Homo sapiens: one gene and its partners. The protein of the gene in region 3 interacts with the protein of the main gene of each other region in a biochemical or structural test. Each region holds a gene or a part of one and is shown on either strand. Other genes may lie near its edges.

The links.
Region 1: the proteins of UBE3A (region 3) and UBE2D3 form a complex in vitro, tested with the Homo sapiens proteins (5 studies listed by BioGRID, with this or other methods).
Region 2: the proteins of UBE3A (region 3) and UBE2D2 form a complex in vitro, tested with the Homo sapiens proteins (12 studies listed by BioGRID, with this or other methods).

What each region holds. Positions count from the first base shown.
Region 1 is NC_000004.12:102,817,523-102,824,551, forward strand, and holds part of UBE2D3 (ubiquitin-conjugating enzyme E2 D3), read right to left. Parts: intron 1-7,029. UniProt on the Homo sapiens protein: Accepts ubiquitin from the E1 complex and catalyzes its covalent attachment to other proteins. In vitro catalyzes 'Lys-11'-, as well as 'Lys-48'-linked polyubiquitination.
Region 2 is NC_000005.10:139,613,339-139,620,367, forward strand, and holds part of UBE2D2 (ubiquitin-conjugating enzyme E2 D2), read left to right. Parts: intron 1-1,247; coding exon 1,248-1,279; intron 1,280-1,358; coding exon 1,359-1,436; intron 1,437-1,522; coding exon 1,523-1,628; intron 1,629-7,029.
Region 3 is NC_000015.10:25,436,012-25,442,889, forward strand, and holds the start of UBE3A (ubiquitin-protein ligase E3A), read right to left. Parts: upstream 3,014-6,878; 5' UTR 2,478-3,013; intron 2,314-2,477; exon of another isoform or gene 2,042-2,313; intron 1-2,041. UniProt on the Homo sapiens protein: E3 ubiquitin-protein ligase which accepts ubiquitin from an E2 ubiquitin-conjugating enzyme in the form of a thioester and transfers it to its substrates.

The DNA.
Region 1 (7,029 bases), on a different chromosome or scaffold from region 3:
TTAAAAATTTGGACTAGGGGTAAGTTTCAAAAAGGTTCCTTTCTCAACAGGGTGTCCTTGCAAAGATAATTTAATGTTTGGCAAACTGAGGGAAAAAAATTCTCAACTGCACCAAACTATTACTCAATGCTCCAGAATGAACACGATATGGAAAACTAATGTTTTCCTTAGTATTTATTTCCGCATAACCATCCACCGTTAGTCTGTATCTCATTATTCGTACGTAGTGTGAATCCAGTACTATTTTTCAAGTTACATGGCCTGAGAAAATGATTCTATCCCACAGCAAGACTATTTACTGGACTGGAAATCAATTTCCAACGACACCCATACTCAGCATTTTTAAAAGTAATTTTGTCTACGATAGTCACCTAACAAAATGTTTTTAGAGCCTAAAGTTTCACAGGCTTCAGGGACAAAAACACTAAAAAATTACACAATTGAAATTTTCAGCTTATTCCTTCCTAGCAGTCTAGAGGAAGAGGAACAGTGCCAAGAACCAGAAGGAACAGCTCTCACACGGCACCTGTAAAATTTTTTTATACTGTGCTGACTACCCCTCACCTAAGGGGAACAGCATTACTCAACTATTAAGGCCACTGAAACAGGAAAATGTTTGGTTGGGGACACTGACTTACTTTAGGAATTGCTCAAGGTTCCACTCACGTTGAAGGGACACTAAGATCAAGCACATACAATCAGGGTACAACACTAAGAAACTGTACTAGCTATAAAAAGAACAAAAGGTTGGACATTTCTTTTCCACAGAGTGCTCTTTTAGGAAACTTTCTCCTTTTAGTGTCATCTTCCTCTGAGCTGCTTCTCCTCAAACTTTCTGCACACTTGGCTAGTGTGAGAATCCAGACCTTCTCACTGGAAAAAATACTTGTATTTAAAAGCCTTAAAAAACCTATAGGAAAAGAAGTCAAGGAGACCCCTCTGCCTTCTTTCTAAGCTAGGTAAATGAGACCCTCTCAAAGCTCTCACATGGTCTAGTTCGCCTCATTAGTTAAAACACTACAAAGAAATTTGAGACAGCAACAGACTTTACACAACTGAGTTGTTTGCCTATTTCCTGAAGACCTGGTGGGCACCATGGTAGAAAATAGGGCAGGATTTTTTTCACCAAAAAAATCTCTCTAAAAGGCAACCAACAGGTACAGCTTAAGCCACTGGTGAGTGTTCTCATCTGGAAGTACATGATTTAAGCAGTAATGGGTTTGGTCACTATTTTTTTTTTTATTCTGAAACATTCCTTACATGAGATTTTTAATACAAAGCCTGCAAATGGTTTATCTTGAGGAAGACCTTTACTGTAGTCACTATGGGATATGGGATTTAACAGTTGATTGTTGGAGATGTTAAACTATGCTTTCTGCTTCTCTATTCTCTATCTTCCTCATTCAATGATAAGTGGTACTAGCAGTGGTGACCAACCACAGGCTACAAAGAACAGTAGGCCAAGGTATTGAAAACATTAAAGACCTGAAAGGATGCTAGGAGAAACATAAGAATGTCCCCTCCCTTGCTGGGCGTGGTGGCTCACGCTTGTAATCCTAGCACTTTGGGAAGCCAAGGCAGGCGGATCACCTGAGGTCAGGAATTCAAGACCAGCCTGGCCAACATCGTGAAATCCCATCTCTACTAAAATATAAAAATTAGCCGGGCATGATGGCGGGTGCCTGTAATCCCAGCTACTCGAGAGGCTGAGACAGGAGAATTGCTTGAACCCAGGAGACGGTGGTTGCAGTAAGCCGCAGTTGCGCCACTGCACTCTAGCCTGGGCAGCTGACCAAGACTCCGCCTCAAAAAAAAAAAAAAAAATTCCCTCCTTTCAAAGAGCTTATAAATTGGAAATACTAAAAATATTTATTCACAAATATTTATGAATATTATGAATATTCATGAAGCTACAGAGCAGCCATGTTCCAGGAGCCCAATAAGTATCTGAACATTCGGTTAACTTTCTTTCAATGACAGCCAGTATCTGTTCATCAGATCAACATAACCAAAAGGTAGCATTTATGAAAACAAGGTTTTAAGTGTCAACCCTATTAAAGCGTAACGCCATAAATAACTTATTCTAGGTTTCATCCCCCCAAGGCTTGTCAAAATTCAAAAGCCTATATAGTGGCAAGGCCAAGTTCATGGATTCTACCTTTAAGACAGTAAAATTATCACCACGATGTTCCACAAATCATTTGTTATCCCAATCTCTACCATCTATTTTGCACGTCATCACACAAAGGTCATACAGAGGACAGAACGCAGTAGTATAGATACATTTCCTCTCAGCACTTTCCGGAAAACTAAAAGCTTATGCCATTACTAAAGGTTAATTTCTTGTATTCTATTTGAGAGTCTATTTCTTTCAGAACTAAAGACAAGATTTACATGACTCAAAAGACAAGATTTGTATGACTGTGAATCAGCATTATAAAAACAGCCCTTGCCTCAAAAACCTATACTGAGCAACACAAAACACTGCTTTGGGGACTGGAAGAGATGATAAAATGAGGTGGGAAACAAAGGGAGTAAGTGCCTTAAGAAATTTTAAGAATCATCCTCAAGAAGACTTTACAACCAACCTAGAAAAATACAAAGGTGCGAACCAACAATAGAGGTCGAAGTGCAGTGCAATTAGCTGTCCATCAGGCAGACAGTAACTACTGTAACTGTTCATATAAAGATCTGGTTTACTATAAAGTTTTATTAACTTTAATGTTATGAAATGTCTGTATAAAATATGTAGATGCGAATATCAAGGCAGGGAACAACAAACTTCAGAAACATGGTTATTTCAAGAGAAGGATGCTTGGCAAAAAGATATGAACAATTTCACAAAACTCCAAATAGTCCCTTTAAAACACATTTTAATTTGAAATTTCTTCTGAGAAATCCTTTTTTATCTTAAGGTTTAACAGTAGGCACTGCACAGTATCTCACTGCATCACTGACAAGGTATTAACTTCCTGTTTAGTCGTAATTATAGGTGAAACAAGCATGCGTGTTCATTACACAAGGTACTAAGAATGGATTGAATATTACTAATTTTCTTTCGATCACCACTGAAGGTAAAGTCACTTAACATTATTCAAAGCCATTCTTTTGTAAGCATTATTTAAAAATGGGCAAAGAAACCCAAATTTAGATTTGAAGCTCTGCTCCATGAAAGCAAGAAGGGTGTTTTATGGACATTAAAACAAACAAAACAAACAAACAAACAAAAAAAACAAAGATTAACAGCCAAACAGCTGCCCAGTAGTAGAAAACATTCAATTACACATTAGCCATGAAATTACAGCAAGGTTAGGATTAATGTAAGTATTTCATACTGAAAAAGGTACAAGAAATCATGATTCACAATTGACAAACATTTAAATACGACAAATTCAGCTATGAAAAGTTGAAGGTCTCTTTTACAATAGATTATGTTGAAAGTATCATTAGGAGATAAAAATCAGATGTTTCAACAAAGTATAAAAATACTTCCCTAAACTTTTCCCTTCCCTACATAACAAGGTTGAGGATACAATTCTGAATAAATCTTATCTAATAAGAGAAACTGGGCAGTAAGATATTTGGTGAATGCATTCATTTTTAATTATGAAATAACACTGCTATGGTAGCAAGCTCAAGACCACAACATTTCCAAGAATGGAGAGTTTTATTTCATTAATTTCAAAATACTGGTTTTGGCAAGGGGAATTAAGTCATTATAATAAAAGACAAATCACATTGTAATAATACTAGTACAAAAAATACAGTATAGAAAATTTATTTTAAATACCTCCCCTACTAGATCTAATATTCTTGAAAGGTAAATTACAAAGTGACAAACAACTATTCATGTGTTTACATGCTTATTTTCACCACTGAACGCAGAGATTACCATAGATAAGGACCATCTTCCTCATTTATTCCCTGGGACTAGAATACTACGTCTAATGCAGATTAGGACCTTTACTCCCTTGTATCTGTGGTTCTTAATCAGAGAGGAGCTTCAGAATCACCTAGAAAATTTTCAAAATTATGTGTTTCCAGGGAAAATGATTTAGTAAGTCTAAGACCCCCATGCAGCTGTATTTTTTTTTTTAAATTCTAAACAATCTGACATTTAAAAATAAGTAAACAAGTATAACTGGATTGTAACACAAAGGATAAATGCTCGAGGTATATACCCCATTTACCCTGATGTGATTATGCATTGCATACCTGTATCAAAATATTTCATGCAACCCATAAATATATACACCAACTATGTACCCACAAAATTTTTTTAAAAACTCCAAATGTTCTGGAATATAAATGTAATTCATGTCACACCCAACAATATATAATATTCAGTAAGCTCTTCTATACGCTAACAGATACAAGAAAACTGCTATTTAAAAAAAGAATGCAAAAACCAACCTAGGTTTGAGATTTTAATCTGAAACATTTTTTTATCTCAGTGTTACGAACCTAGTTTCTTTTTTAATAGATAGATTATAGCAACATGCTGTGGAGAATCCTCAAAGATTGCCTGTCTTGGATAAAAAGGGTCACCTAAACTCAGGGGCAAAGTTTGACAGAGCAATCTAGTGACACAGTAGTTCATCCCAGTGATGGAGCATTCAACTTTTTATTTGTATAAATAACAAAAACTAGAATCAACACTGCAGATGAGCATGATGAAAGAAAAGTATGCAGTGTCAGTAATGCATCCTTTTTCAAATTAAACAAATACTGAGGTCCTATTATTATCAGCATCCTTCAGTCACAACTATCCTACACAGAAAGTGAGCTGGCTATCAACAAGCTTTGAGGACCATATATGAAACACATGCAAGACAGTTTACCCAGCCTATATACTAGTTGGGGACAATAAATATATTTTGTTCACTCTAAGACATCCTAAGCAGTTAACTGGCACATGTTAGTTTTCAGTGCTTGAAGAGACTACCCCAAAAGAATTAAATCCACTTCTACTTTCAAAATATTATTAGCCAAAATCTTAACTCACAAATTAGCTATAACCTAAGAGTAAAGCTAACTCCCAATTACTTAGATGTATAAGTGGGAGAGCAAAGCAGCTTATTTCAGGTAACAAACTAAAATCACATACATTATAAAACAGGAATTGAAGGGCCAGGCCACGTGGTGGCTCACGCCTGTAATCCCAGCACTTTGGGAGGCTGAGGCGGGTGGATCACGAGGTCAGGAGATCAAGACCATCCTGGTTAACACGGTGAAACCCTGCCTCTACTAAAAAAACAAAAAAATTAGCCGGGGGTGGTGGTGGGCGCCTGTAGTCCCAGCTACTCAGGAGGCTGAGGCAGGAGAATGGCGTGAACCCAGAAGGCAGAGCTTGCAGTGAGCTGAGATCGCGCCACTGCACTCCAGCCTGGGTAACACAGTGAGACTCCGTCTCCAACAACAACAAAAAAAGGAATTGAAATGGTTCAAAAAAGAGCTTGAGCTTTTGGTGCCTATCTGATTTGAATCCCAGTCACTTACTAGTTGTGTGACTAGACGACTATTTCTCTGAGCCTGTTACTTCATCTATAAAATTCTCACATCTATCCCACATGGTTGTCTTGAGGATTAAATGAGTTAGGGTTTAGATGAGACTGCATTGTCTTAACTACTGTAATAGATAATACTATATGCAAAAGTAAACCGTTCTGAATGACAAAAAAAAACTAAAGGATGATATCAAACTGTAGTTGTTAAGAGCACATACTCTGGACCAGGCTGCCTAGGTTCTAATCCCAACTGTCACAACATGAACCTGGGTCATCTTCTTAACCTCTATGCCTAAGTTTTTCAATTTCGAGATGGAGATAATCTTGAAATTATCTCAGTGGAAGTGGTGGTAGGAGGGAAACGAAGATCAAATGAGAGTTTTTTAACCCTTTACCCATGGTTTCCCTGCTAGCCGCTTGCTTATAATCATATATAAACACTAAAGTCATACTTCCAGAAATAAAAACCCTTACGAAAACTTAACAGGGTGTATACAATGAAAACATGAGCTATTCTTTTAGGCTTGGTTCACATATTTATCTTCAAACGTCCCTAAAACACATATATTGTAGTCCCTGTTTAATGGGAGTGGTAAAATTGTCTACAGCTCTCAATACCAATCAACTTGGAGTGCCACTTTTAACTCCTGTTGTTTAATAGCCCTATTTAAGACCATATTACAGCTCGTTCAAATAAAGAATACAGGAAAAAAGTTGATTGGTCTAACAGTCAAAAAACTTACTCCAAGAACACAGCTGAAGCAAAGTATAAATTCAAAAGCTCGATCAAATGGACTAAAGGTTAAAACTATTCCAATAATCATTTCAGTAAAATATTAACGAGGAATACAGATATATCATAATACTTGAAATGTGGGACCTTCAGACAAGAATAAATTCGAAATAGGTACGTAACACAAGCATACCATACTGACATCAATGGCTACTTGACCCCATATTTCTAGAAGAGGTGCCTAAACCGAAGAGCATTCCAGTTCAGAGCTGTCCACTCACTAAAATTGTTGGATGTGGAATGTTTGAAAGTTGCCTCATGTGATTTTAACATTAACAGCTGAAAAACCAAACCACATGCACACGTCAAAGTTTCTGTAAGTTGAATCAATAATGTTCACATAAACACTGGTTTTTCCAATATGCCAAGTTTTTATGTTGTGTCTATATTACATAAATCTTCAAAATATTTACAAAAGGAGACAACCTGGTTAACTAAGAGTACTAAACTAGAAATCAAAGTTCTTAAACAAAAACGATTTTTAAAAATTATAAATTGTGATATTAAAATAGCAGTAATAACTAGGAGTGTCATGTGCCAAGAGCCTGTTCAAATTTGCACATTAATCCATTTAATCGTCAAAACAAATCTAGGAACTTAAAATTTGTTTTGTTCACTGCTGCCACCCCAATGTCTAAAACAGTGCCTGGTACATATTAGGCACACAGTCATTTATTGTTCATATTACAACAGATACCCTTCTTATAGAGGCACATAAACTTGCCCAGA
Region 2 (7,029 bases), on a different chromosome or scaffold from region 3:
CAGTGACAACTTCCCTTAGGTTGCTCAGATCATAGTATGAATGGTAAGTGTGCTAAGTAGTAGCTTAATTATAAGTAAAAACTCTGGCTTTTGATCTCTCATGATGCACTTAGTAGCATGAGAACATGGAACAAGCATCATTTTCTGCATTTGGAAGATATTTATTTATTGAACAAGTTTATAACTTATTAGAAGTATCCCTGGAGCTTGTAATCAACCTTGGGCTTTCAGCTAATATTTTCTTCTTAAATTTTACTCCTTTTTTCTCTTTTTTCCTCTTTAACTTATCCTTTACATTAGGAGAGATGTTTTTCTTTCTTTAATGAGGGCCAGTAATGTACAGACCTACACAAGAGTTTTTAGAAATTTTTTCTCCTTGTTAAAACCAGTCTTTCTTAATTTGAGTATTATCTACCTTGACTTTACTGTTTTGTCCCCCGTATACCAGCATTATAAAAGGAGTCATGCCTGTAATTCCAGCTTTGGGAGGCTGAGGTGGGTGGATCATCTGAGGTCAGGAGTTTGAGACCTGGCCAAACGTGGCAAAACCTTGTCTCTACTAAAAATACAAAAATTAGCCAGGTGTGGTGGCACTTGCCTGTAGTCCCAGCTACTTGGGAGGCTGAGGCAGGAGAATTGCTTGAACCCGGGAGGCGGGGGTTGCAATGAGCCGAAATTGCGCCAGCGCACTCCAGCCTGGGCGATAGAGTGAGACTCTGTCTCAAAAAAAAAAAAAAAAAAAAGTGTATTATATGTAATTGTTTTGAAGAAATGATTTACCCTGTGAGGTAAAGAAATAACTGTTTAAAAGTAGAACTGTAAGCCTTGTCAAGAAGTTTGTCTACCTGACATGAAGTTTCAAGAAGTTTTAGCCCAAATACTTTCGGTTTTTTTTGTTTTTGTTTTTGAGAGAGTCTTGCAGTGGCGCAGTCATGGCTCATTGCAGCCTCCACTTCTCAGGCTCAAGCAGTCCTCTCACCTCAGCTTCTGGAAGTGTTGGGATTACAGGTGTGAGCCACCACACCTGGCTCTAAATATTTTTCATTGAGCACCTTATCAGTGTTCTAGGCCATTCTAGTCATTTTTCTTGTTTCTTTAGACTGTTAATTTATGTTCCTCATCTTGCTCATACTCATTATCATATTATTTATAAATGAATTTGGATTAGAAGGGGAATGATATGTTACTATGGCGTAGATACAATGTAGATATTGTTACATGGTGACTTTTTTCTTGTTATTTTTCAGTGTTCCATTGGCAAGCTACAATAATGGGGCCAGTAAGTATTCAGATTAATTTCAGAATAAACAGTTTATGTAATTTACTCATTTTAATCCCACTTTTCTTGTTATCAACAGAATGACAGTCCCTATCAGGGTGGAGTATTTTTCTTGACAATTCATTTCCCAACAGATTACCCCTTCAAACCACCTAAGGTAATTAATTGGAATGTGGCAGTTTTTAATGTACTTTCTATAATACTAATAAACTAGTTTACAGAAAGTTTCCTTTCTTTCTGTAGGTTGCATTTACAACAAGAATTTATCATCCAAATATTAACAGTAATGGCAGCATTTGTCTTGATATTCTACGATCACAGTGGTCTCCAGCACTAACTATTTCAAAAGGTAACAGTGGGTATTTGATATCAAGATAAAGCAACCGTGTCTTTTGTCTTTTTAGAGTTATTTATTTTTGAAAAGATTACTTATGTTTCTTTTAAGAAGAGATAGCAATTCTTCTTAATCTGAAATGGACCTTGAGAACTGAAAACGAGTTGGATTTTTCAAGCAAAAGTATTCCTTGGTGTAGTGACTAGTCTGTCAGTTGTGCTACTCTAGCATAGGTTAGAAGATGAACACTGGGCCTGGTGCCGTGGCTCATGCCTGTAATCTCAGCACTTTGGGAGGCCGAGGCGGGCAGATCACAAGGTCAGCAGATCGAGACCATCCTGGCTAACATGGTGAAACCCCGTCTCTACTAAAAATACAAAAAAATTAGCTGGGCATGGTGGCAGGTGCCTGTAGTCCCAGCTACTCGGGAGGCTGAGGCAGGAGAATGGTGTGAACCCGGGAGGCAGAGGTTTCAGTGAGCAGAGATTGTGCCACTGCACTCCAGCCTGGGCAACAGAGCGAGACTCTGTCTCAAAAAAAAAAAAGAAGATGGACACTGGTATGAATGTTTTTTTAGAGCATAAAGTAGAGCACAATTAACATCTCTTCCAACCTTGAGATTCATGAATGGAAAAAGATAGATACTATTGCAGAATAGGAAATAGACCAGCCCTTTAGACAAATGCCTATGCTGTAAACATAGACGTTAGGTTCTTGAAGAACAAAATATAGGTAAATATTTTACCAGCTCTTGTCTTTAGGTTTCTGTATCAATGAACTGAGTGATGTAGTTGTTGTCTTAATGTGTTGATTTGAAATTGTACAACCCTTCAACATTATTCCCAGATGAAATCACAGTTGCGTTACAATAATCTAGATTTTTTTTTTTTTTTTTTTTTTTTGAGATGGAGTCTCACTCTGTCGCCCAGGCTAGACTGCAGTGGTGCAATCTTGGCTCATTGAAACCTCCACCTCCCGGGTTCAAGCAATTCTCCTGCCTCAGCCTCCCTTGTAGCTGGGATTACAGGCACCCGCCACCACGCCTAGCTAATTTTTGTATTTTTAGTAGAGACTGGGTTTCGCCATGTTGGCCAGGCTGGTCTCGAACGCCTGACCTTATGATCCACCTGCCTCGGCCTCCCAAAGCGCTGGGATTACAGGCATGAGCCACCGTGCCCAGCCAAATAATCTAGAATTTATAAAGGAAAACAAAAACAAGTATTTATGGCCTGGCACGGTGGCTCACGCCTGTAATCCCAGCACTTTGGGAGGCCGAGGCAGGAGAATCGCTTGAACCCAGGAGGCGGAGGTTGCAGTGAGCTGAGATTGCGCCACTGCACTCCAGCCTGGCCAGCCTGGGGGACAGAGCGAGACTCCGTCTCAAAAACAAGAATATTTATCAGATCTCACTGCTGTACTCTGAAAGGTGATAAAAGAGTTCACTGGATGTACTTTTGTGAAAATGAAATCAGTTGTTTAAGAGAAAAATCAAATATGGTAATGGATTAATATGTTTAAAATATGAAGTACAAAAATCAGAAAAAAATTCAGATCCCAATAGATGAATGGACACAGGGGAACCAAAGAATAAATAAATGAATGTTACGTTCCTATTTTTTACCTTTTTAATTAACAAAGATATTTTTAAAAGAAGACAAAACACTAATGAGGTACATTGAAATGAACACTCATATTCTTCAAGTAGAGGTATAGATTTGTAGAGCCCAGTCTGCCAGTATGTGTTAAGAGACTTAATCATCCATGCCCATTCACCCAATAATTCTAGTTTCATTTATTTATACTAAGAAAACAATCCCAAATGCTGAAAAAACTTTGTATACAAGTACATTTGTGACATTGTGATTTAGTTCTGAAAATTGGAGGTTACTTACAGTAGAGGAAAAAATAGATCGGTTCCAGCACATGCATTTAAAAGAGTATTGACCCTGGCCAGGCATAGTGGTTCATGCCTGTAATCCCAGAACTTTATGAGGCTGAGATGGGCAGATGACTTGAGACCAGGAGTTCGAGACCAGCTTGGCCAACATGGCAAAACCCCATCTTTACTAAAAATACAAAAAATTAGCCAGGTGTGATGGTGCGTGCCTGTAGTCCCAACTACTCAGGAGGCTGAGGCGGGAGAATCACTTGAACCCGGGAGACGGAGGTTGCAGTGAGTCAAGATGGTACCATTGCACTCTAGCCTGGGTGACAGAGGGAGACTTTGTCTCCAAAAAAAAAAAAGTATTGATCTTTACAAATATTGTGAAAATAGGAAAATACTGTGCTTGAGAAAAGCAGAAAAAAGAAAAAAGGCATATACACTGTAACAAGAGTTACATATAAAAGTATGTTGAGTGTCCAGAAATAGACAAGCAATGTTAGTTTTGGTATTTGTGTGGTGAAATGTGGTGTGTGATTTTTTTTTTTTTTTTTTTTTTTGAGAGGGAGTTTCGCTCTTGTTGCCCAGGCTGGAGTGCAATGGTGTGATCTTGACTGACTGCAACCTCCGCCTCCCGGGTTCAAGCAATTCTCCTGCCTCAGCCTCCCAAGTAGCTGGGATTACAGGCACCCACCACCACGCCTGGCTAATTTTTGTATTTTTAGTAGAAATTATCTGCTTATAATTTACCATTTGAACCATTAAGTAGAAATTATCTGCTTATAATTTACCATTTGTTTAATGCATGTATTTAGACAGGAAGCAACATAGTTTCATGGTAAAGAACATAGATTCTAGATCCAATTGCCTGTGTTCAGATCTCAGATCCACCTCTTATTAAATGAGGCTAGAGACACATTGGCCCCTGTATTCCTCAGTTTTTTCATCTGTAGAAAAGGAACAATAATACATATTTCATTGTTGTTACGAAGATTAAAGAAGCAAAAACAGACAGTTAACTGGTTCCTTGTAAGTACTCCAAAAACTGGGGATAAAGGCACAGTTGTCAAAAGTGTTGGGTATTTGTCATGTTATCACTTGGATGTCAAGACTCAATCTTAAAAAAAAATTATTATTATTATTATTTGTTTTTTTTTGAGAAGGAGTTTCACTTTTGTTGCCCAGGCTGGAGTGCAGTGGCGCAATCTCGGCTCACCACAACCTCCACCTCCCGGGTTCAAGCCATTCTCCTGCCTCAGCCTTCTGAGCAGCTGGGATTATAGGGCATGTACCACCACGCCCAGATAATTTTGTATTTTTAGTAGAGACGGAGTTTCTCCATGTTGGTCAGGCTGGTCTCGAACTCCCAACCTCAGGTGATCCGCCCGCCTCAGCCTCCCAAAGTGCTGGGATTACAGGTGTGAGCCACTGCTCCTGGCCACAAATTAATTTTTTAAAGCAAACAAAACTCTGAGACATTAATTTAAAATTTTTGGAGTCCCAGGCAGAAATAAAAACAGGATGCCAGAGAACCACATTTTTTTAAAGTTATTACAACTTTAATGAAATAGTTTTTTAGAGAAGTGTCCCCTTTTCTTTTGGTAGGCCCCCTTACAATTCAAGAGCTACTTGAGAAAGTGTTTGTGGACCTGTGCCTGGCCTGGTGAGGGTCCCATTGGTTGCACTTCCTTCACCAAATAGCAATAGAGATGTAAATCTAGTAATGGGACCAAGATAAGTAGAATTGTGTGAGAGGTGTGTGTTTGGTGGGGTGAGGTGTTGGAGACACAAGATAGCTGAAATTATTGCCATACCTCTTTTTGTTCTTCCCCTTGCCTAGCGTTGATTTTTTTTCAGCTATTCCAAATGATAAGGACTGTTACAAGTCTGATTTGTTAGGTTCTCTCTATCTGGATAGCTATCCTTTAAAATAGTTGCAGTGCCATTTTGTTGAATTTGATTGTATTAACTGTCTCAGATTTAAGGTTTTAATGAGTCCCTTTTTGTAAATTGAATGTATGGGCAAGTAGTTCTATGAAATGCCTTAATCCTGTATATGATATTATTCCTTTAACATATAGTCTGTCTTCAAGGACAGAAATTTTGACCCAGTATTCACTCTACTTTGAAGGTCCGTGATGGGGACCTAAATATTTAAAAAACAAAAACAAAAACACTGAAAAAAACTGAAGGGAAGCAGATAAGTGTGCCATAAAGCCATTTGATTATATGTTTTTAGAAGTGAAAGTAACTGTTGCTGTAACACTAGTGAAAAAGTAATACTGGCCAGGCGCAGTGGCTCATGACTGTAATCCACTTTGAGAGGCCAAGGAAGGTGGATCACTTGAGGTCAGGAGTTTAAGAACAGCCTGGCCAACATAGTGAAACCTGATTTCTACCAATAATACAAAAATTAGCAGGGCAGGGTGGTGTGTGTCTATAGTCCCAACTACTCGGGAGGCTGAGGCACAAGAATCACTTGAACCTGGGAGGGAGAGGTTGCAGTGAGCCAACATCACACCACTGTGCTCCAGCCTGGGCAACAGAGCAAGAGTCTGTCTCAAAAAAAAAAAAAAAGTAATACTGATGAAGAATATATATAGGTAAAAGTTCAGTGAAGAGACTATACAGGTTATAGAAATAAGAGTTACTATCTTTACAGAAGAAGGTATAGTATATGTATCAGTCCATTCTTGCACTGCTATAAAGAAATACCTGAGACTGGATAATTTATAAAGAAAAGGGTTTTGCCAGGTGCGGTGGCTCACTCTTGTAATCCCAGCACTTTGGGAGGCCGAGATGCGCAGATCACTGAGGTCGGGAGTTTGAGACCAGCCTGACCAACATGGAGAAACCCCATCTCTACCAAAAATACAAAAATTAGCCTGGCTTGGTGGTGCATGCCTGTAATCCCAGCTACTTGGGAGGCTGAGGCGGGAGAATCGCTTGAACCCGGGAGGCGGAGGTTGCAGGAAGCTGGGATCGCGCCATTGCACTCCAGCCTGGGCAACAAGAGTGAAACTCCGTCTCAAAAAAAAAGGAGGTTTAATTGGCTCACAGTTCTGTGGGCTATACAGAAAGCATGGCAGCATCTGCTTCTGCGGAGTCCTCGGGAGCTTTTACTCATGGCAGAAGGCAAAGGGGGAGCCACCTGTCTCACATGGCAGTAGCAGGACCAAGAGAGAGATGGGGGAGGTGCCACACACTGTTAAACAGCCAGATCTCATGAGAACTCTATCACAAGAACAGCACCAAAGGGGTCGTGCTAAACCATTCATGAAGGATACACCCCCATAATCCAGTCGCCTCCCACCAGGCCCCACCTCCAACGTTGGGGATTACAGTTGAACATGAGATTTGTGTGGGGACACAGATCCAAACCATATCAGTATATTAGAAACCAAAATGAATTCTTCATGAAATCAAGAAGCTAAGTAGTGTACTAAAAATCTTTTCACAAGGTCCAGATAGCCAGTACTCTCCTTTCCTGGAAAGAAAGAAAAGCCCTTTCTTTAAAACCTGTCCTTTAAAGTT
Region 3 (6,878 bases):
ACCCATTTTACAGATGACAAAACTGTGGCTTACCAAGATTAATAAGGCCAGAATTAAAATTAGGGTCTAATTCCAAAGATATTACCACTATACATACCAAGATGTCTTGTTACTACATTTTATCCTTACATTTGGCAGTGAGGGGAAAACTCAAAAAGCAGTCAAAAAACTTTTGTCCTGAACCAACATAAAAAGAGCACCTAAGACTTCATCCAGTATTTTACCGAAAGATCACTTCTAAAAGTTTGTCTTCACCCCGATCTAAAAATTAGAAAACTAATTTTCTTTCAGCAGCTGCATATGTACATAATGTAATGTTTCTACATTTAGACCTACACAATTATAAGTCTAAACAAAATATGTGTAACATGATTGGAGAACATAACTAGCAGTCATTTAAGAAAATGGACATTTGGAAACATCATTTCAAGAGCTTGGGATGAAAAATTTTGCTATGACCTATAAATCTGGATCATTCCACTGACTGACACTGAGAGAAACAGTGTATTATCACAGTTTACACAGTAAATTTTTTTGGAGGGGAGAGGGAGGAGATTGAAATAGAAATGATCGAAATAGAAATTATCTAAAGTTTAAGAAATACAACTGATTAAATGTTACATGTCAAAGACACTGTAGGTACCCAATAAATCCTGTTAAATGGACTGCACAAGTGGGATGAGAACACGTTTTCCCCACACCTCTGACTAGTATGTACCTTTCTTAGGAAGTTATTTTTTCAGCCATGGGAAAAAAAAGGGCAGAATTTAGGACAGATAAAACATAAGTAGCTTATAAATCCTCTGAAAGGAAATCAAAACACAGTATTTTGTATCTCTGTATAAAGTTAAGCTCCTCAGGGACAGGGGCAATGTCCAGAGGATAGTGAGCATACTACTTAGCAAACTAATGCAGGTTAATAAATATTGACACAGTAAGACTAGCATAGTTTACATTCTAATTTTGTAAAGATTATAAGTTACCTCTTCATATTCTGTTCTTTTATTTCTCCTGTGTATATTATAAATACACAAAGATTGAAAATTATTTCTTGAAGCTATTTCCTTTTTTATTTTTTGGTCAACTGTATTAGTGTTTCTTAAAAGGGCTTCTGGTCATCCTTAGGGCTTATCAGTAGCATCATTAATAATGTATTCATTTCACTAAAAATGTGGTAAGTAGCTTGGATTTAAAAACAGGATCTAATTTCAAAGCTATTTCCACTATACACACCAAGTTACAACTTTCTTATCTCTCCTAAATTCTAAATTTTACATGATTTACCAAATCACTTCTTAAGTAAGAGTACTTATTGATCAGAAGTGTGAGACAAACACCTTATCCCACTTGTCCAATTTATTCAACAAGATTGATTGGGTACCTTTGTGTCTCTGACAGGTAACTTTCAACAGTTGTATTTCTTAAACTTTAGGTCGTCTCCCAAAAAAAACTGTAATAATTTGCTGCTTCTCTCAATATTGCAGGCAGTAAAATGATCCAAAATTACGGGTCATATCCACATTTCTTCATGATTGAGGTTAACTGTGCACTGTAAACCCCATATGCTATTAGTTTACATTTTCAACAGCACCCTCGCCACTTAATAATCTCAAACAGATTTTGGACTGTTACTAATTTAGCATATCCATAAAAAGTCATTTAAAAAATGTAGACGCTAAATTCTCTTTCAAGGTTGCCAAGCTTCACCAGTGTCTGTATTAAAATTATTTCTAAAATTTTACGGACTAAGGCATTTGGTACATTCAATTCTACCTTTACCAACAAAAGCCTTTACCACCAAGATGAGGAAAGCATCCTTTTCATTTTCTACACTGAAAAGGGGGGGGAAAAAAGGCCAACTGCTTGCATACAGGTCTGCATATAACACAGCAGTCTCTGGCAAAGCCAATAACTCACGTTCAACTTCAGAAATCCTGGTGGCCGGTAACACAGAGTAACCTGTGCGCACAACCCTTGGGCTTGACATACCACTTCATCCGCCCTCCCTTCCCATCAATCCACCCCCAAAACCCCAACCCACCAAGCACACGGCTAAATATGTCTTCCCCAAGAGAGCCAAAAACCTTGAAAACGCCGAGAAAGGGCTCCCCTTTGAAGGAAAGGGCCTGCCCTTCCCTGTCTGGGGCCCCGGCTGGCTCGAAGAGCCTGGCTCCTAGGAGGCCCAAATCTCGACGCCTCGCACGTCCCGCCCCGCCCCGGGCCCGCTCGCGTCCCCTCGGGCGACAAAACCCTCCCGCCGTCGCTCAGCCAGGACTGACAGTTACGGCTGCAGCAGCCGCGGCCACCAGGGGCCTACTTCTGGCACCAGCCCCTTCGGACCACGCGCCCCCAAACACTCGCCTCGGCGGCGGGGGGCGGGGAAGGGGGGTGTCGACCTCGCCACAGCGGGCCCCGAAGGCCGGCCGAGTGACGGAGGGGAGCCAGCGCCGCCTGGCGCAGGCCGCGGCAACACTGACCTGTCGTCGCCCCCGCGCCTGGGCTGCGGCGGCCGCCTCACTGGTCGTAGTCGCCCTCGCCCGCCGCCTCCGCCCGCCACCGCCTCGTTCTCTTTCGCTGCCGCCACCGCCGGGGCTCATGCGGGACCCGCGCTTCCTTATCCGGAAAACGAGGCCGGGAAAGGGAGCGCCGGGGCCGCCGAAATCCCGGCGTTCGTCGCCAGCCGCCGCTGCCTGTCCACACCGGGGGGCTGAGGGGCCCTCCTGCCAGGGGCTACAGGCCGCGAGCTATTCCGAGGAGGAGCCGAAGGAGGCGCCGCCGCCCGCAGCCGAGCGCGCCGGGTCGGCAGAGGTGAAGCGTAAGTAGGCGGCGGATGGCGGGCGCCCGCGCTGGCGGATGGCTACGCGGCGGAGGGGTGCGCGAGCGAGCGAAGCCTGGTGTGTCGGGTCCTGGCGAAGGGAAAAGGCCCCGTCGTCTCCTGTAGTCACCCCGAGCCCAGCGCCACCATCTTGGGAGACACACGGATCTCGCGGCCGCGGCGCAAGACGGGAGGACTGGCTGGGCGGGCCGAGTATCCCGGCAGGCAGCGCGCGCCGCCCGGCCGGGCGAGGGCTCCAGGCCGGGACGCGGGGACGTGGGGCGGGGCCAAGACGCGCGGGAGGGCGCCGCGCTCCGCCCCTCCTTCCTTCGCCGGCCCCGCCTCCCTCCCGCTTGCCGTCGCCGCCGGCGCACGGGCCATTGGGAAGAGGAGGTGGCCTGCGGCCCCTCGGAGTCCCACCAGGCTCGGTCGCCATCTTGCGACTGGACAGAAAGGGTAATCCCTCTTTTTAGTTTCTGCTGTCTGTGACCCGAAAGAATAAACCTGGGACTTCCGGAAGCCCTCTGGGCACCCCCCCCCCCAGGAGGGTTGCAGAGCCCCTTGGTGTACCCAGCAGAGGAACGCCTCAGACTTTGTTGGGAAACGAATGGCTCTGAAAGTTAGCTGAAGCCGCTGGAATAGCCCCCCAGCCCCGAGGCGGGGCAGGTGCCTGCCGTTATTGGCTTTTCGACCCCAACCCTTTTCTATCTGGAGCTGCCTTTGTAGATGTTGCAGGGGTGCCCCGAGAGTGCAGGCCAGATTTTAGAGGACCAAGGTCATCTACTTAGGCCTCTTGCCAACACAGGATGTGTCAACTAGTTTACCAGAGACGAAGGTAAAGTCCCGTCTCCTGCAGTTGTTGACGTTCAGTAGGTCGTCGGTTAAGAAAAGTGGCTCCCTGGTTGACCCCAGCTGGATAGAGGCTAATTTTGATCCATATGACAGCTGAACGTAGTTAAAGCCATTAAAATTAAATCCATTTAAAGTCATATTTGGTACCAGGGTCACCATTTTAAAAGGTGTGTGTGTGTATGTGTGTGTGTGTGTGTGTGTGTGTGTATAGCTTTACAACACTTGCTAGCAAAGCCAAAAGAGTATCACTAACAATTCATAGTGTTACAACTTGCAACTTTGTTGATAAGCCCTTGAAGTACTAGATGAGTACCCATGTCTAGTATTCAGATTTTTTATATCAACAGTCGTACATAGCAGTGTATCTTTTTTAAATTTATTTTTATTTTTAAACTTAGAAATGGTGTCTTGCTATGTTAGGCCCAGGCTGGTCTCGAGCTCCTGGCCTCAAGTGATCCTCCCACCTCGGCCTCCCAAAGTTTTGGGACTACAGGCATGAGCCACAGTGCTCGGCCAGCAGTGTAATTTTTAACTGTCAGTCTCGGAACATCTTTTTTGTATAGCCAAGTGTGTGGGTGTGTGTGTGTATCCGCCTCACAACTATAACCAACCATTGAAAAACCAACAATAAGCTAGAAGAATTTAAGTTATTCCAGGACAACTGATGATAATGATAGTATTAAGCCATATTCGATTTTAAGATGTTTTAACTCAGCTCTTTACTCACTTTTCATTTCCTCTCATTACACATCCACATTTGGAAACTATTTGCTGTTATATTTCATGGAAAGGACTAGTAAGAATTATAATCTTTAAAAAAATTTATCTTCGCAAGTTTTCAAAATAGGCAACAAAGAATGTAAATCTTTAAGGACTTTATTGTTGGACTAATTAAAGCATACCATTTCTACTATATCTAGCATATGGAGATACTTATAGGTATTCTTCCTTTTAAGTAGAAATTGACAATAAATTAAGTGTAATTTTATAATGGCCTGGTGTATCAAAGTGTGGCGGAAATCCCTGAGTTCCAAAAAGATTAAAGACCGAAGGGAAATAAGTCTGCTTTTAGCTAGATGTCAGAATGACTATTCATTGCTTTACTGAGATCAAGGAGGATCTTAATTCCTCCTGGAGAAATTACGTATATCCGTTTTAGTTCATTAATTTTAAATCTGTATTCTTATGTGTGACATTAGTATTAGAATTCTTTCAAGATTTCACTGTGCTTTTTGTTTTATCCATTTTCAAATTTAGAAATGTTTGCTCATCAAACTTACCAACATAAATACTTTCAGGAATCCTTAAGATACTAGCAGTGTTCCACTTCCCTATACACCTGTTTATATGAAAAATAAAAAAATTCTCCCATATCAGACCCATGTGTTTTTTTTTTTTTAGGTGTGTTTTTCCCAGAAAAACAACTTTGTATCTACTAAGTGAACAGTGATTTCTTCAGACTTTTCTAGTCCAAATGAGACCCAGTAGTTTCTAATAATTTTCTCATTTCAGGTATACAGTAAAAAGAGCAATTTAATTTTATAAGCATCTGCATCAATGCCTTGAGCAAACTTTGAGCTAATGTTTACCCAGAACTATTTATGTGTCATATGTTGGACTACTTGAACTACTATTTATGTGCCAGACCTTGGGAAACAATAAAAGATGAACAATCTCTATCCCTGCCCTCAAGAACTTGCAGTTCCAGAGGAAGTCACACCTGTAAGATTGGACACTTTTTCAGAGTAACCCAACACTTCATTGAGCATGGGGGGTACCTAGTAATATGTATCTGCTAATACTAACAAACTTTTTATTTTATTATTATTATTATTTTTTTGAGACAGAGTCTTGCTCCGTCGCCCATGCTGGAGTGCAGTGGCGCAATCTTGGCTCATTGCAAGCTCCACCTCCCAGGTTCATGCCATTCTCCTGCCTCAGCCTCCCAAGTAGCTGGGACTACAGGCACCCGCCACCACGCCTGGCTAATTTTTTGTATTTTTAGTAGAGACGGGGTTTCACCGTGTTAGCCAGGATGGGCTCGATCTCCTGACCTCGTGATCCGCCCGCCTCGGCCTCCCAAAGTGCTGGGATTACAGGCATGATCCACCATGCCCAGCCAACAAACTTTTTTTTAAAGGAAACATTTTGCCCTAAATTGCTGGTGAAGTTGTTTTTTGACAGAGCTGTTTTATTGCTGAAGATTTCTTATTGATGCCAGTCATAACAGATGAATCAAAATGCAAGAACAACTTTTTTTACTACTCAGCATGCCCCAGGATCAGAAATAAGTCGAGCATGGAAGAGACAAAATTCAGATATGGTGGGATAGAAGTCACGGTTGCTATTTTTAGGCCACATCCAAATGTTACACACTCAACTTCTGAAAAACACTAAGCTTTCAATATATGAATAGCTCCCATTATTTAAGAAATACTGTTAAGCAAACTTAGCTCCATGAAGAACACTGGCATATGATAAGTGCTCAGTAAATGTTAGTGCTTAGTAGTGGTAGTAGTAGTAGTATATGTATCATTGTTTAGTACTGCACACATCAGGCATGAACTCCTACATACCCCCACCCTTATGCCTGCAGACCTGTCTAAATTTGCATTCTTTCTGACCTCGAGTCTTAAGGTAGAAGCCATCCTTCTGTCCTTTCTACAGGTAATTTTTATTTCTTGAGGGAAGAGAGATTGACTCAAGACTCTTACTCCCTTAAATATTCCCACTCCTGTTCATAAATTCTCCCTCTACTTTGTCCCTTCTATTTAGAAAAGCTGTCTATACTTAGATTGCTATTACCTTCCAAATTCCTCTTCAACTACAGAAATTTAGCAGCTCCCTCCATTTTACTGTATACATTGCTTGTATCAATTTCACTGTGGCATAATGGCCAAATTGAAAGGTTGCTTCTCAGTTTTCATAACATCTGATCTCTCTGCAGCCTTCCACACTGCTGACCACTGCCTCCTGGAAACTGCTCCCTTGGTTCTGTCACCTTACATTCTCTGCTCTTCTGCCTTGTCTTAGGCCACTCTTTCTCAGGTCTCCTGTGCAGAATCCTCCCTCCCCATTCTTGGTTCTCTGCCTACCATGTTATAATCTTTGACAGTACCATTTACGTATACTCTTCTATCACTTATTTCAGTCAGGAATCAAGTCTGAATCTTGAACACAGATCTCAGTCAGAAGCATCAGACACAGTATC